2 linked regions of the Homo sapiens genome follow. The protein of the gene in region 1 binds, or shares a complex with, the protein of each later gene. Each region holds a gene or a part of one and is shown in the gene's direction. Other genes may lie near its edges. The genes, in order: TRIM28 and SMARCAD1.

What was found.
Region 2: the proteins of TRIM28 (region 1) and SMARCAD1 are in contact, whole or in part, in a crystal structure (PDB 6H3A), measured with the Homo sapiens proteins. Residues at the interface, in NP_005753.1 of Homo sapiens: Arg330, Trp333, Thr334, Lys337, Ile338, His341, Leu376, Lys377, Ile379, Val380, Asp381, Val383; in NP_001362784.1 of Homo sapiens: Asp156, Leu157, Ala160, Lys161, Gln163, Thr164, Glu167, Leu168, Phe169, Asp188, Gly189, Ala190, Ala192, Leu196, Ala201, Gly202, Gly203.

The regions. Positions count from the first base shown.
Region 1 is NC_000019.10:58,539,148-58,547,310, forward strand, and holds the start of TRIM28 (transcription intermediary factor 1-beta), read left to right. Parts: upstream 1-4,916; 5' UTR 4,917-5,610; coding exon 5,611-5,950; intron 5,951-6,277; coding exon 6,278-6,390; intron 6,391-6,616; coding exon 6,617-6,749; intron 6,750-8,163. UniProt on the Homo sapiens protein: Nuclear corepressor for KRAB domain-containing zinc finger proteins (KRAB-ZFPs).
Region 2 is NC_000004.12:94,202,758-94,210,942, forward strand, and holds the start of SMARCAD1 (SWI/SNF-related matrix-associated actin-dependent regulator of chromatin subfamily A containing DEAD/H box 1), read left to right. Parts: upstream 1-5,107; 5' UTR 5,108-5,313; intron 5,314-5,326; exon of another isoform or gene 5,327-5,485; intron 5,486-5,588; 5' UTR 5,589-5,637; coding exon 5,638-5,827; intron 5,828-8,185. UniProt on the Homo sapiens protein: DNA helicase that possesses intrinsic ATP-dependent nucleosome-remodeling activity and is both required for DNA repair and heterochromatin organization.

The DNA.
Region 1 (8,163 bases):
GCTTCCCTCCTCAGACAGGATTCTCCCCACACACACCCTGCTTCCCTCCTCAGACAGGATTCTCCCCACACAGAACCTGCTTCCCTCCTCAGACAGGATTCTCCCCACACACACCCTGCTTCCCTCCTCAGACAGGATTCTCCCCACACAGAACCTGCTTCCCTCCTCAGACAGGATTCTCCCCACACACACCCTGCTTCCCTCCTCAGACATGATTCTTCTCACACACACCCTGCTTCCCTCAGACAGGATTCTCCCCACACACACTCTGCTTCCCTCCTCAGACAGGATTCTCCCCACACAGAACCTGCTTCCCTCCTCAGACAGGATTCTCCCCACAAACACCCTGCTTCCCTCCTCAGACAGGATTCTCCCCACAGAGACCCTGCTTCCCTCCTCAGACAGGATGCTCCCCACACACACCCTGCTTCCCTCCTCAGACAGGATTCTTCTCACACACACCCTGCTTCCCTCCTCAGACAGGATTCTCCCCACACACACCCTGCTTCCCTCCTCAGACAGGATTCTCCCCACACACACCCCACTTCCCTCAGACAGGATTCTCCCCACACAGACCCTGCTTCCCTCCTCAGACAGGATTTTCCCCACACAGACCCTGCTTCCCTCCTCAGACAGGATTCTCCCCACACAGACCCTGCTTCCCTCCTCAGACAGGGCTCCCCTCCCCACACACCCTGCTTCCCTCCTCAGACAGAGTTCCCCTCCCCACACAGACCCTCTTTCCCTCAGACAGGATTTTCCCCACACAAACCCTACTTTCCTCCTCAGACAGGATTCTCCCCACACAGACTCTGCTTCCCTGAGACAGGATTCTCCCCACACACACCCTGCTTCCCTCCTCAGACAGGATTCTCCCCACACACACCCTGCTTCCCTCCTCAGACAGGATTCTCACCCCACACACCCTGCTTCCCTCCTCAGACAGGATTCTCCCCACACACACCCTGCTTCCTTCCTCAGACAGGATTCTCCCCCCACACACCCTGCTTCCCTCCTCAGACAGGATTCTCCCCCCACACACCCTGCTTCCCTCCTCAGACAGGATTCTTCTCACACACACCCTGCTTCCCTCCTCATACAGGATTCTCCCCACACACACCCTGCTTCCCTCCTCAGACAGGATTCTCCCCACACAGACCCTGCTTCCCTCCTCAGACAGGATTCTCCCCCCACACCCTGCTTCCCTCCTCAGACAGGATTCTCCCCCCACACACCCTGCTTCCCTCCTCAGACAGGATTCTCCCCACACACACCCTGCTTCCCTCCTCAGACAGGGCTCCCCCCACACACCCTGCTTCCCTCCTCAGACAGGATTCTCCCCACACAGACCCTACTTCCCTCCTCAGACAGGATGCTCCCCCCACACACCCTGCTTCCCTCCTCAGACAGGATTCTCCCCCCACACACCCTGCTTCCCACCTCAGACAGGATTCTCCCCCCACACACCCTGCTTCCCTCCTCATACAGGATTCTCCCCACACACACCCTGCTTCCCTCCTCAGACAGGATTCTCCCCCCACACATCCTGCTTCCCTCCTCAGACAGGATTTTCCCCACACAAACCCTACTTTCCTCCTCAGACAGGATTCTCTCCACACAGACCCTGCTTCCCTCAGACAGGATTCTCCCCACACAGACCCTGCTTCCCTCCTCAGGCAGGATTCTCCCCACACAGACCCTGCTTCCCTCCTCAGACAGGATTCTCCCCACACAGACCCTGCTTCCCTCCTCAGACAGGATTCTCCCCACACAGACCCTGCTTCCCTCCTCAGACAGGATTCTCACCCCACACACCCTGCTTCCCTCCTCAGACAGGATTCTCCCCACACACACCCTGCTTCCCTCCTCAGACAGGATTCTCCCCCCACACACCCTGCTTCCCTCCTCAGACAGGATGCTCCCCACACACACCCTGCTTCCTTCCTCAGACAGGATTCTCCCCCCACACACCCTGCTTCCCTCCTCAGACAGGATTCTCCCCCCACACACCCTGCTTCCCTCCTCAGACAGGAAGCTCCCCCCACACACCCTGCTTCCCTCCTCATACAGGATTCTCCCCACACACACCCTGCTTCCCTCCTCAGACAGGATTCTCCCCACACAGACCCTGCTTCCCTCCTCAGACAGGATTCTCCCCCCACACCCTGCTTCCCTCCTCAGACAGGATTCTCCCCCCACACACCCTGCTTCCCTCCTCAGACAGGATTCTCCCCACACACACCCTGCTTCCCTCCTCAGACAGGGCTCCCCCCACACACCCTGCTTCCCTCCTCAGACAGGATTCTCCCCCCACACACCCTGCTTCCCTCCTCAGACAGGATTCTCTCCACACACACCCTGCTTCCCTCCTCAGACAGGATTCTCCCCACACACACCCTGCTTCCCTCCTCAGACAGGATTCTCCCCACAGAGACCCTGCTTCCCTCCTCAGACAGGATTCTCCTCACACACACCCTGCTTCCCTCCTCAGACAGGATTCTCCCCACACACACCCTGCTTCCCTCCTCAGACAGGATTCTCCCCACACACACCCTGCTTCCCTCCTCAGACAGGATTCTCCCCACACACACCCCGCTTCCCTCAGACAGGATTCTCCCCACACAGACCCTGCTTCCCTCCTCAGACAGGATTTTCCCCACACACACCCTGCTTCCCTCCTCAGACAGGATTCTCCCCACACAGACCCTGCTTCCCTCCTCAGACAGGGCTCCCCTCCCCACACAGACCCTCTTTCCCTCAGACAGGATTTTCCCCACACAAACCCTACTTTCCTCCTCAGACAGGATTCTCCCCACACAGACCCTGCTTCCCTCAGACAGGATTCTCCCCACACAGACCCTGCTTCCCTCCTCAGGCAGGATTCTCCCCACACAGACCCTGCTTCCCTCCTCAGACAGGATTCTCCCCACACAGACCCTGCTTCCCTCCTCAGACAGGATTCTCCCCACACAGACCCTGCTTCCCTCCTCAGACAGGATTCTCACCCCACACACCCTGCTTCCCTCCTCAGACAGGATTCTCCCCACACACACCCTGCTTCCCTCCTCAGACAGGATTCTCCCCACACAGACCCTGCTTCCCTCCTCAGACAGGGATTCCCCTCCCCACACAGACCCTCTTTCCCTCAGACAGGATTTTCCCCCCACACACCCTGCTTCCCTCCTCAGACAGGATTCTCCCCACATACACCCTGCTTCCCTCCTCAGACAGGATTCTCCCCACACACACCCTGCTTCCCTCCTCAGACAGGATTCTCCCCACACAGACCCTGCTTCCCTCCTCAGACAGGGCTCCCCTCCCCACACAGACCCTCTTTCCCTCAGACAGGATTTTCCCCACACACACCCTACTTTCCTCCTCAGACAGGATTCTCCCCACACAGACCCTGCTTCCCTCAGACAGGATTCTCCCCACTCAGACCCTGCTTCCCTCCTCAGGCAGGATTCTCCCCACACAGAACCTGCTTCCCTCCTCAGACAGGATTCTCCCCACACACACCCTGCTTCCCTCCTCAGACAGGATTCTCCCCACACACACCCTGCTTCCCTCCTCAGACAGGATTCTCCCCACACAGACGCTGCTTCCCTCCTCAGACAGGATTCTCCCCACACAGACCCTGCTTCCCTCCTCAGACAGGGTTCCCCTCCGCACACACACCCTCTTTCCCTCAGACAGGATTTTCCCCACACAAACCCTACTTTCCACCTCAGACAGGATTCTCCCCACATGGACCTGCTTCCTTCCCTCCTTGGGATTCCCCACTGTTGAGGTTCAGTTTCCCCATCTGGAAAAGCATCAAAGTCAGGGTAGCTGCTGACGAAAACATGGGGAGGGGATGCCTTGGGGGGCTGGGTGGGATTTCACAGACTCATTGCTCTTTAGCCTCTTGTGATTTATATATATGTGTATATATATATATATATTTTTTTTCTTGATGGGGGGTTGGGGGGCCCGGCGTGGTGGCTCACACCTGTAATTCCAGCACTTTGGGAGGCCAAAGTGGGTCTATCATCTGACGTCGGGAGTTCGAGACCAGCCTGGCCAACGTGGTGAAACCCCGTCTCTATTAAAAATACAAAAATTAGCCAGGCGTGATGGCAGGCCCCTGTAATCCCAGCTACTCGGGAGGCTGAGGCAGAAGAATCGCTTGAACCCGGGAGGCGGAGGTTGCAGCGAGCCGAGATCGTGCCACTGCACTCCAGCCTGGGCAACAGAGCAAAACTCCGTCTCAAAACAAACACAAAAACCTTTCTCTCCTCTTTTGAGATGGAGTTTCACTCTTTTCTCCCAGGCTGTAGTGCAATGGCACGATCTCGGCTCACTGCAACCTCCGCCTCCCGGGTTCAAGCGATTCTCCTGCCTCAGCCTCCCGAGTAGCTGGGATTACAGGCGCCTGCCACCACGCCCGGCTACTTTTTGTACTTTTAGTAGAGACGGGGTTTCACCACGTTGGCCAGGCTGCTCTCGAACTCCTGACTTAAGATCCAACCGCCTCGACCTCCCAAAGTGCTGGAATTACAGGCGTGAGCCGCCGCGCCCGGCCACATTTTTCTCCATCTGTGGTCTAGGCTGGCGTGCAGTGGCACAATCCCGCCTCACTGCTGCCTCGGCCTCCTGGGCTAAACGGAGCTTCCCGACTCGCCTAAGAAAGTGGTGGGATTACAGGTATGAGCCACGGCGCCCGGCTGTGATCTACATTTGATTCAGTCAAGTTTCTGTGTTTCTCAAGTTTAACTATAGCGTGGTTAAAATCCAAAAGTCAGCACCCGAGCTCACACAGGAGCTTCCTCCCTCTTGGGATGGAGACTCTCCTCCCCTCTCCCTGGACACAGCCCTTCACTCGGTCTTGGCCCCGCCTACTTCTCCATCGGCCCTGCCCCCTATCCCGAACTCTTAGTGACGCAGAGGCTGGAGACGACTCTACGGCGGCGAAGAGACGCGGGTTGAGGAAGAGGGACGGATTGCCCATGCGCTTGGGCGCACAGCGGCCCGCTTCTGTGTGGTCTGGAGGTGGAGCTGAGAGGGGAATCACACTCTATAAAGGTTCGCATACCCCACTGGCGGATTCAATTGCGGCAGTGACGTCACAGAGGCCCCGCCCCGCCCCCACAAGAGCCCCACCGACGTGGGGTTGGCGGTGGTGGAAGGACTAGGAGTTGGCGCGTGCGTACTGGCGGCCTCTCCCGCACCGACCGGCCTGGGCCCCGCCCCCGGGCGTGAGGCGCCCAATGCGCGTGCGCGGCGGCGTCGGCGCCAGTTATTTCTGTCCCGCCCCCCGGCCTCGGCTCTTTCTGCGAGCGGGCGCGCGGGCGAGCGGTTGTGCTTGTGCTTGTGGCGCGTGGTGCGGGTTTCGGCGGCGGCTGAGGAAGAAGCGCGGGCGGCGCCTTCGGGAGGCGAGCAGGCAGCAGTTGGCCGTGCCGTAGCAGCGTCCCGCGCGCGGCGGGCAGCGGCCCAGGAGGCGCGTGGCGGCGCTCGGCCTCGCGGCGGCGGCGGCGGCAGCGGCCCAGCAGTTGGCGGCGAGCGCGTCTGCGCCTGCGCGGCGGGCCCCGCGCCCCTCCTCCCCCCCTGGGCGCCCCCGGCGGCGTGTGAATGGCGGCCTCCGCGGCGGCAGCCTCGGCAGCAGCGGCCTCGGCCGCCTCTGGCAGCCCGGGCCCGGGCGAGGGCTCCGCTGGCGGCGAAAAGCGCTCCACCGCCCCTTCGGCCGCAGCCTCGGCCTCTGCCTCAGCCGCGGCGTCGTCGCCCGCGGGGGGCGGCGCCGAGGCGCTGGAGCTGCTGGAGCACTGCGGCGTGTGCAGAGAGCGCCTGCGACCCGAGAGGGAGCCCCGCCTGCTGCCCTGTTTGCACTCGGCCTGTAGTGCCTGCTTAGGGCCCGCGGCCCCCGCCGCCGCCAACAGCTCGGGGGACGGCGGGGCGGCGGGCGACGGCACCGGTAAGTACGAAGTGATCGGTGCCACCCCTCCCCCTACTCTCTGCCTTTGATTCCGACTGGGTGCAGAGATGAGGATGCCACCTGGGCGAGAGGATGGGGGCCCGGACAGGGCACGGGAAATACTTTCTGGGTCCTGCATACGAACGTGGGTTTGTGCTGGCCGCTGAGATGGGACATCTGACTAAAGTTGGAGAAAAGAAGGCTCGGGGAGGGGAGGGGCTGGTTCGCTGCGGGATAATGGTCGGGGGCCCACCCAGCAGGGGAATGGTGGGGGCCATAACCTGGGTGGGAACTTGTAACAGTCTCCCACATCCCTGCTTCTCGAAGTGGTGGACTGTCCCGTGTGCAAGCAACAGTGCTTCTCCAAAGACATCGTGGAGAATTATTTCATGCGTGATAGTGGCAGCAAGGCTGCCACCGACGCCCAGGATGCGAACCAGGTGCGTCCTATCTCAGCAACCACAAGGAGGTTTCTGGGGAGGGGGCATCTGCGCAGGAGGAGCTTGGCACCAGCTCCAGGCTGTTACTCCACTTTCCCAAGGCTCTGGGTGGGCTGCCTAGGTTGGGTCAAGGGACCAATCTTAAATCTCCGGTTGTATTTTCTGGGATGTAAACGTGGATCTATCAAGTTGTCTTGCCTTCTCTGACCCTGCCTTTGTCTGGCAGTGCTGCACTAGCTGTGAGGATAATGCCCCAGCCACCAGCTACTGTGTGGAGTGCTCGGAGCCTCTGTGTGAGACCTGTGTAGAGGCGCACCAGCGGGTGAAGTACACCAAGGACCATACTGTGCGCTCTACTGGTACATGAGGCTGAGGGGGGCTGTTGGAGTTGTTCTCCCATGTGTGCCCTCAGTTGCTTTTATGATGTTGGTTGCATCTGGTGGATGGGTCCTAGAGTTCTCTAGGGGGTGCCGCCCGAAGGGCCCGAGGGCAGAACTCCAGAAGCAGAAAAACTGGGGTTGTGGTGTGTAGTCTCTAGGGCCTAGGTGGGAGAGGGTGGGAAGGGGAAATAAGGGAGACCTTAATGTGCTGCAGGGAGGTACAAAGGGTTTGAGAAGGCTTATCAGGGAGTTGTCAGACCTGGTGGTGAAGGGCTCAGCATATGCAAACAGGGAAAGGCATGGTGTGAAGGGCTTTCTGGGTTTGTGGTTCCCTGGCACACATCTGGTATAAGATGCTGCTAGGGAAAGTAGACTGTGGGTCCATGGATTATAAGTGATGATGATTTTTGGAAGTGTTTTAGCTTTTGAGTTGGCAGAGACTTACCCAAAGTTTGGTTTGGCATTTCCAGCTTTTCACAGACACAGCTAGCTTTGGTTTGGAAGGAGCTTGAGAGTCTTTTGAGTCTAGCCAAGTTTTGGGGCCAGAATCCTCCCATGAGTGGCCTTTTGGTAGCCATACTGTGATTCTTCCCATCCCAGAGGACAGCATTGGTGGAAGATAGCGGGAAGGTGGTGGCTGTGGGGCCTGAGCAGCCAGGAGGGATACGCAGGGGCTGCAGGGTGTCCTACATTCCAGACGTCCCAGGCAAAGGTCAGGGTGCAGGAATGAGTGGCATTGGGGAAGTCAGTTTCCCCAATGAGCCCTGATGCTACATATTTTGGATTTGGTTGGTATGTGGGACCAGTGTGTTTGATCAGTTTTCTAATGGGGAGACAGGCTTTGGAGGTTATTAATGGGTTGGTCTTTGGGTGGGATTATGCTGAGCACCAAGATTCTGCTCTAGAGGGGGTGTGACCACCATTCTGAGGGTCCTGGTTTGACATTTCATCTCTCCCAGTATGAGAACCTCTACAAGGTTTCCTCTGGGCCCTTGGATTGTAAGAGACCCTGGTGTTCTCTTGTCAGGGAAGAGGGAGGAAGTTAACCATGAAAGGAGAAGAAAAGGAATCCAGGGTGGTGTGTAGGCAGAATTCTGAGTATGTCCACTTGGAGAAGTGTTCAGTAAAGGGAACAGTGTGGGGAAGGGTCAGCGGGGGTGGGGGGTGGGGTGGGGTGGTCCTCTTTTTCTAGACGCTGTTATCCTTACCCTTACATTGTTGTTATCTCTAGAAGCTAGAAGAAAGGGATGTGTTTCTCAGCTATGTTGGGGCAGAGGATTCTGGGAGCAAGGAGTTGGGCTTGCAGGCCTGTGTTCTTCCCTGGCCACACCCTCTACATCTTCCCAATAAATGGCCCAGTGTCACAGAACAGGCCGGAAATGAGGCCCCAACT
Region 2 (8,185 bases), on another chromosome or scaffold:
ATTGAAATTCTCATTTTGACATTGTCAGCTGGATTTATGTCTTTAGGAATATTTTAAGGAAGATATATTTTCAGGAAACTAGAAGTTTGAATTTTTTTCTTCCACAAATGAATATTTGTGATCTAGAAAATTATTGAGTCACAATCGTTTTCCCCAAATCATTATAAATATTGCATCATTACTTTCTGACGTTTAACAAAAAAGCTTTTGCTTGATTTCTTTCCCTTTGTAGGCTGTAGATTTTTTCTGAAAAATGCTTGCAAGACATTTTTTAAATTCTTGAAATTAAAACAAATTCTGCAGGATATTTTTACTGTATAGTCTCTTTCAATTGATTCTGCCTGAATTCACTAAGCTCTTTCACATGCAGACTAAATGAAAGCCCATGAACGTTTTCTATTATGTTTTTCATTATTTCTTTTTTTTTTGGTATGTGTGTGTGAGTATGTATGATTGTTTACACCTATTATTCAAAGCTTCATTCTCACTTCTCTGAATCTTATATTTATCATTTCTTCATATTTCATTGTTTTTTTTTTTTTTTTTTTTGAGATGGAGTCTTGCTCTGTCACCCTTTAAAGCAGTGGCATGATATGGCTCACTGCAACCTTTGCCTCCTGGGTTCAGGCAATTCTCCTGCCTCAGCCTCCTGAGTAGCCAGGGCTACAGGCGTGTGCCACCACGCCTGGCTAATTCATTGATTTCATCTATTGTCTGCAACAGATCTTTCCTTCATGGCTTTCAGAATATACTAACTCTACCAAAACCTTGAGAGTGGAAATCTAGCCTCAGGGACCAAGAGAAAATAAATTTCTGTTGTTTCAGTCATCCAGGCTGTTAATATACCAGCCCTAGCAAACTAATACATACCCTTAAACTTCTACTTCACTTTCAAAGAGAACCCCAATCATGAATCATTATAATTCTCCCAGGTCAATGAAGGTTGCAGAAAAATCCTACCCTTAGAACTGGTCAAAAGGAGTCCCTATCCTGGTCTAGTGCTTTAAAGGGCAAAATCTAGTTCTTTCCAGCTATGCCCTGCCCTAAAGGAATCTTTGGGGCCAAGAAGACGTGTTCATTCAGAACTTGTGCCTTCACTTTTAGACAATAATTTGAGTACCTGGTCCCTAAAATTCTTTGCTCACACAGCCCCAAGAAGTCTAACAGTGACTTTTCCCGAGGTCCTTCCTACTGAGGGCAAACAGTGCTTTCAGTATCTATAACCCTAGGCCAAAAATGTAGCCAAAAGGCCCCAAGGTCCAAGAGGTGACAAAGGAGTGGGAGAGCAGTAAGTTTGCCAAATAAAATACAAGACAACTTGTTAAATTTGAGTTTCAGATAAACAACAAATAATGTCTTAGTATCAGTTCCAAGTATTTCATCAGACAAATTTATACTAAGAATGTATTCATTGTTTATTTAAAATTCAAATTTAACTGTACATCCCTTTTTTAAAAAAAACAAATATGGTAACCCTAGTTGGGGGCCAGAGTTGGGTGTCCATATGCTGGGCATCTATGTGCATAAGCACATGGCCCATTATGATATCGTTATTGATACCATTAGTATCAAATTGTGTATGAAAAGGTGACACTAGCAAGGCAGGATATATGAGCCAATCAATTCTCTTTCATTAACCCACATTCTGACACAATAGAAATTCTAAATTCAACCTGGCTTCCCTGGTATTTTCAAAATAGGAAGAACATATTTAACTTTTACACTTTGTTGGCTATATTTATAATGTTTAAATATTTAGACATTTTTAATTTATGTGGTTCATTTTCAATCTTGTCCCAGCTATAACGTCAAGAGGTGGTACTGTTGCAGAAAAGCACTCTAAGCGTCAATATTATTGTTAATCACATTTAAAGAATGATGAAAGTAAGACTTAGAAAGGTCATTCAGCTAGAGGAGTCCATTTTCAATGTCAGATCTCTCTAAATAGAAATCAAATTGTCTTCATCACCAAAAATAATTTACTACTTACAAGTAAATATATATTTTTTTCTTTTCTTTTTCTTTCAATCATGGCTCACTGCAGCCTTGATGCCCCCAACCCGCCTCCCCCCACCCCCACCACCAGGCCAACATGGCAAAACCCCATCTCTACAAAAAATGCAAAAATTAGTCAGGCATGGAGACAAGTACCTGTAGTTCCAGCTACTTGGGAGGCTGAGATGGGAGGATCGCTTGAGCCTGGGAAGTCAAGGCTACAGTGAGCCACAATTGAACCACTGAACTCCAGCCTGGGTGACAGAGTGAGACCCTGTCTCAAAAAAAAAAAAAAGAGAGATGAAGTCTCCCTTTGTTGCCCAGGCTGGTCTTGAACTCTTGGCCACAAGTGATCCTCCCACCTCAGTCTCCCAAAGTGCTAGAATTACAGGCATGAGCCGCTGTGCCTGGCCATAAGTAAATATATTCTTTGATCACATAATTTAATATGCATGCATAAAACTAATGCATTTCATGGGATATTAAAGATAGGTATAAAGGAAGTCCTAATTGTTCAGGCTTTGATCTTGAGTTTTATTGGCCCAGACACCTGATTTTATAAATGTGCCCACATTTGATAAAACTGTGGGTATGTGTTGTAAATATACAATTCACAACACTGACTTATAAAACAAACTGGCAATTTAAGTTTACAATGGCTAATATATCTGGCAGAATGATCATTTGTAGCAATTCCTCTTTATGGGAAATGCCAACCAGAAGCTCAAATTATAACTCAGAAAATTGCTTGTCTAATGTTGGAACAAAGGGAGTATATCTTAGTTTTTTGTTTTTTTGAGACAGGGTCTTGCTCTGTCACCCAGGCCAGAGTGCAGTGGTGCAAACATGGCTCACTGCAGCCTCGACCTCCCAGGCTCAAGTGATCCTCCTGCCTCAGCCCCCAAAGTAGCTGGGACTACAGACGTGTGCCATCATGCCTGGATAACTTTGTATTTTTTTTAGAGATGGGGTCTCACTATGTTGCCCCAGCTCTGCCTTGGCCTCCCAAAGTGCTGGGATAACAGACGTGAGCCACTGCTCCTAGCCCAGGAGTATATATTCTTTGTTTTTTTGAGATGGAGTTGCCCAGGCTGGAGTGCAATGGCGTGATCTCGGCTCACTGCAAGCTCCGCCTCCCTGGTTCATGCCATTCTCCTGCCTCAGCCTCCCGAGTAGGTAGGACTACAGGCGCCCGCCACCACGCCCGGCTAATTTTTTGTATTTTTAGTTGAGACGGGGTTTCACCGTGTTGGCCAGGATGGTCTCGATCTCCTGACCTCATGATCCGCCCGCCTCCACCTCCCAAAGTGCTGGGATTACAGGCGTGAGCCACTGCGCCCGGCCAGGAGTATATATTCTTAAGCTAACATTTCCATCAAGATAGGTGAATTATATGCAAAAGAAAGGAAATCAGTGTATCGAAATGATATCTGCATTCTCATGTTTGTTGCAGCACTATTCACAACAGCCAAGATTTGGAAGCAACTTAAGTGTCCATTAACAGGTGAATGAATAAGAAAAATGTGGTGCATATACACAGTGGAGTATTATTTCGCCATTAAAAAAAATGAGATCCTGTCATTTGCAACATGGATGGAACTGGAGGTCATTATATTAAAGGAAATAAGGCAGGCACAGAAAAAAAACTTGGTATGTTCTCATTTATTATATTTGTGGGAGCTAAAAAATTAAAACAATTGAACGTATGAGAAACGGTAGAACGATGGCTACCAGAGGCTGGGAAGGGTAGTGTGGGGCGGGGGAGGACCCCGGTGGTCGGTGAGCATGGTTAATGGGTACGAAAATACAGTTTGAATGAATAAGATCTAGTATTTGATAGCACAATAGCATGACTACAGTCAACAACAATTTATTGTACTTTTTTTTTTGAGACAAGAGTCTTGCTTTGTTGCCCAGGGTGGAGTGCAGTGGAGTGATCTCGGCTAACTGCAACCTCCGCATCCCAGGTTCAAGCTATTCTCCTGCCTCAGCCTCCCGATTAGCTGAGATTACAGGCGCCCGCCACTACGCCCGGCTAATTTTTTGTATATTTAGCAGAGACGGAGTTTCACCATGTTGGCTAGGCTGGTCTCAAACTCCTGACCTTGTGATTCACCTGCCTCAGCCCCCCAAAGTGCTGGGATTACAGGCGTGAGCCACCACTCCCAGCTTATTGTACATTTTTAAATGACTAAAATAACTGGATTGTTTGAAACACAAAGGATAAATGCTTGTTATGGATACCCCACTTACCCTGATATGATTATTACACATTGCATGCCTGTATCAAAATATCTCATGTACCCTATAAATATGTACACCTACTATGTACCCGCAAACATTAAAAATTAAAATATTTTTAAAAAATTAATTAATTAATCAAATTCCATTCTAAGAACAATCAAGCCGAAAGTGAGGAATTACTTTAAATGCTTTGAAGCTCAGCATCCCGGGGTTCTTATCCGTCACTAATTACCTATACATTTGCAGGTCTCAGTTTCTTTGCTTTGTAAACATAGGCTTCTTGTAAGGATTGGGATTATACACTGAAAAAGCTTAGCACAGTATTATTACTATTATGCTATCTACATTATATTATAGGTGAAACACTACAGATTATAATACATACAATATATACTAATTGTATTATATATTGTTATTTTTTGTCATTATGCTATTTACTATTGTTCTATTTAATAACTCTCTAGATAATTTAACAGGACAAAGGTACAGAACAATCTGGCCCTTACAAGCCGGCGGAGACGGGTACGAATTACCATGACAACAGCGCGCGCCTCGACATTGTCGGCTCGCGCGTTGTTTGGGAAGAAAAAGCCTAGGCTGCGTGTTGCGTCATCATTACGCGCTCTTAAGGTTTCTCCGTGGTGTTTTGGAAGGTCCCGGCACGGCTACCGTCGCCCCACGCTAGGAAATTTTTTTTTTATTTTCAACCTTTGTTACATAGCACTGAGGCTACAAGATCGTAAGTACTGAGGGAAGAAAGAACAAGCGAGCGATTGAACGTTAAAAAGATGCCTTAGCATGCACTCCACCTCTGAACCTTCCTGTGTGTTCTTAATCCTATCAGCTTCCTCTCAGCTGGGATCGCGCCGCGTCAACTTCCGGGCGGATGCCCGCCAGCACGGCCTCCGCCGCTCCCCTTCTTTGGCCCCTTTGTGTCCCCGCAGTGTCGAGGCGCGGGCCCTGGCAGGTCCTTTCTCGAGGCAGGGGGCACGGTAGCACAGGGAGCTTCTCTTTGTGGGCGGGCGCGAGGCCCGCTAGGGGGTTATACTGGGGAACGTGCCTGCGCGTGCTTGGGTAAGAGGAGGTTGCATGAGGGTCAGCTCGTGGTTTCAGTAAGGAGGGGCGGGCGGGGGAGGCGGACGAAGGGGAGTGAAAAGCAATGGAAAATTTTAAAAGATACCCCCGTCCACCTTCTAATTGTTGCGGCCTAACAATGAAGCGCAGCCATAACAGTCCTGAGCCACTGGCATGTTTGCGGGCCCTTTATTGCCTTGGGAATAAACTGCTGTGGCATTGTATCGTATATTGTTTTCATGGCCTTTTTTCCTCTCTTTATTTTTCCCCTGCAGATAGTTCATTTAAAGCCCCCATCCCTGCAAGGTGGTGCTTTCTACCAATATGAATCTTTTCAACCTGGACCGTTTTCGCTTTGAGAAAAGGAATAAGATTGAGGAAGCGCCCGAAGCAACCCCTCAACCTTCCCAGCCTGGCCCTTCTTCACCAATTTCTCTTAGTGCTGAAGAGGAGAATGCTGAAGGGGAAGTTAGCAGGGCAAACACTCCTGATTCAGATATAACTGAAAAAACAGGTGAGTTACAATGTTAAAATTGATGTAACATCAAGGACAGTTTTTAAAAGATGAAAGGCAGAAGGGATTCTCATTTTTATTCTTGATGTCATATATATTGATGCATTGTCCTGCGGTGTGCCCTTTTAAATACAGCTTTGGGACTGCCATAAGCACCATGTACCCTCAACTGAGCATCCATCCATTGTCGCCTCACTTTTATATGAGTTCTTCGAATATGGCCCCATGGTGGAAGTTGAAATTAGAATTTAGGGCATCCATAGGTCAGAACGGTTGCTATTGGAAGAGCGATGTCAGTGATTCAGTCCTATGATAAACTTTGAGGCTATTTGGGCAGACATTTTCATTCATTCCAGTATTCCCTCAAAATATTGATCATCTACTGTGAGCTAGACATTGAGCAAGGTGCCTAAAGACAACCTCTGTACACAAGGGAAGATCAGATCACATCAAGTTCTTGCATCCACCTGACTTCCTGGATGTCCTCAGAATGCAAATGAGTAATTGGTATTCTTCATGGTGAATGAACATTTTTAACCTCATCAGCAGATTGTCAGAGACAAAAGTATTTGAGGATAAGCCAAAAATTAAGATTTCCACTCGAATCTATGTTCATTGAACAGTTAACTATTAGAGGAATATATTTGAGCTCTTGTTGTATTATAGGAATAGTGATAAGTGCTTCACCTTCTGTCATTTAATTTGCACAATAATCCTACAAGGTAGATATTACTGACATAGAGGTTAATGTGAAATGAGATTCAGAGAGGTTATTAGGAACTTGGTAGAGCCTGAACTCAAGTCCTGGCAGTATGATTCCTGAGCATAAACTAATTAGTTAGTTTCTTAGGAAAGGTGAAAGGAATGTTGGAAGTTATATTTTAATATTTATTTCAGTAATATCTTTTTTTATGCAAAACTCTGTTTCGTAAACAGCTTTTAACTTAATGTAGCCTGAAAGATTGGTAACACACATGTTTATCCTTGGTATCTTTTTGTTTGCCACCCTTCTACTTAAATGTAATAATGATGGCAGATCCTCTGCAAGTTATCATTAGAATAACATTTTTAAATACTTTGGTGTAATTGGAAATTGGCAGAATGATTTGGTAGATTGGATTAGGAGTCAGATTTACAAAGGCTTTGTCTAAGTAGTTTTGAATTTAAATGCTATAGGGAACAACTGAAGGATTTTAAGCACCAGGATTTTAATCCCTGTGTTCACTCTTTGAATAGATATTTGACATCCAGGTATTTTAATGCTTTTCCAATGAATATATTTGTCTGTTTCCTCTGTAGTTAGATAGTTCAGGAAAGCCAAGGTGTAGACATGGGATTTCGAGTCCATAGAAGCTTCTGCTTCTTCATTTTTGTTAAATGTGGGACATTAGACAAGTCATTTGAAATCTGTGATCCACACTTTTTTCATCTCTGAAAGTGAAAGCAGTTTGTAAACTGGATTTCAGTGGAATGTTTTAGTTATTTATCAGTATTGGTCATGTGAAATCTTTAATTTCCTTTAGTGATCAGAAGATATTTTTCTGTTTTTATTTCTTTCTAATGATAACACTCATTTTCTCTTTATTGGGACTTTTTTCCATACATAAATTCTGCTTAAAAACTGAGATTGCTTTAGGAATTACATGATCAGCCTTGATGGCTTCGGGAAATAAGAAAACTAAGTTTGTTCTAGGAATGTTGAGAATTAATCCTTGTAGGAATGGAGCACTTTGCTTTAATAAAAGATTGTTTTAAATGATACTGTGAATTTTGGAGAATCTTGAAAACTGAGAAGTTTAGATTTTACATTGTAAGTATTAGATATCCATTGAAGAACTTACAGAGTGAATGGAAAATGGTGAAAGAAAGTTTTAAAAGTCAGTTTAGCAGTAGTGACTAGTACACACTGATTGAGGGTAGGGATTGAAGGGAAAGAAAACATTTAGGCAACTCCTGTAATTGAGCTTAATGATAGCGGTAGAAATGGAGAAGAAAGAGATATGAGAGGTTTCAAAGTAATGAAGGGCAGGGTTTAGATCCCTGATGGGAATGAGATAAGATGAATGGTAAGATTTTTATGCGCGGTGGCTGAAGCCTGTAATCCCAGCACTTTGGGATGCAAAGGTGGGCAAATCACCTGAGATCACAAGACCAGCCTGGCCAACATAGTGAAACCCCGTCTCTACTAAAAATACAAAAATTAGCCAGGCATGGTGGAGCGTGCCTGTAATCCCTGCTGCTCAGGAGGCTGAGGCACAAGAATTGCTTGAACCTGGGAGGCAGAGGTTGCAGTGAGCCTAGATCACACCACTGCACTCCAGCCTGGGGGACAGAGACTGTATCTCAAAAAAAAAAAAA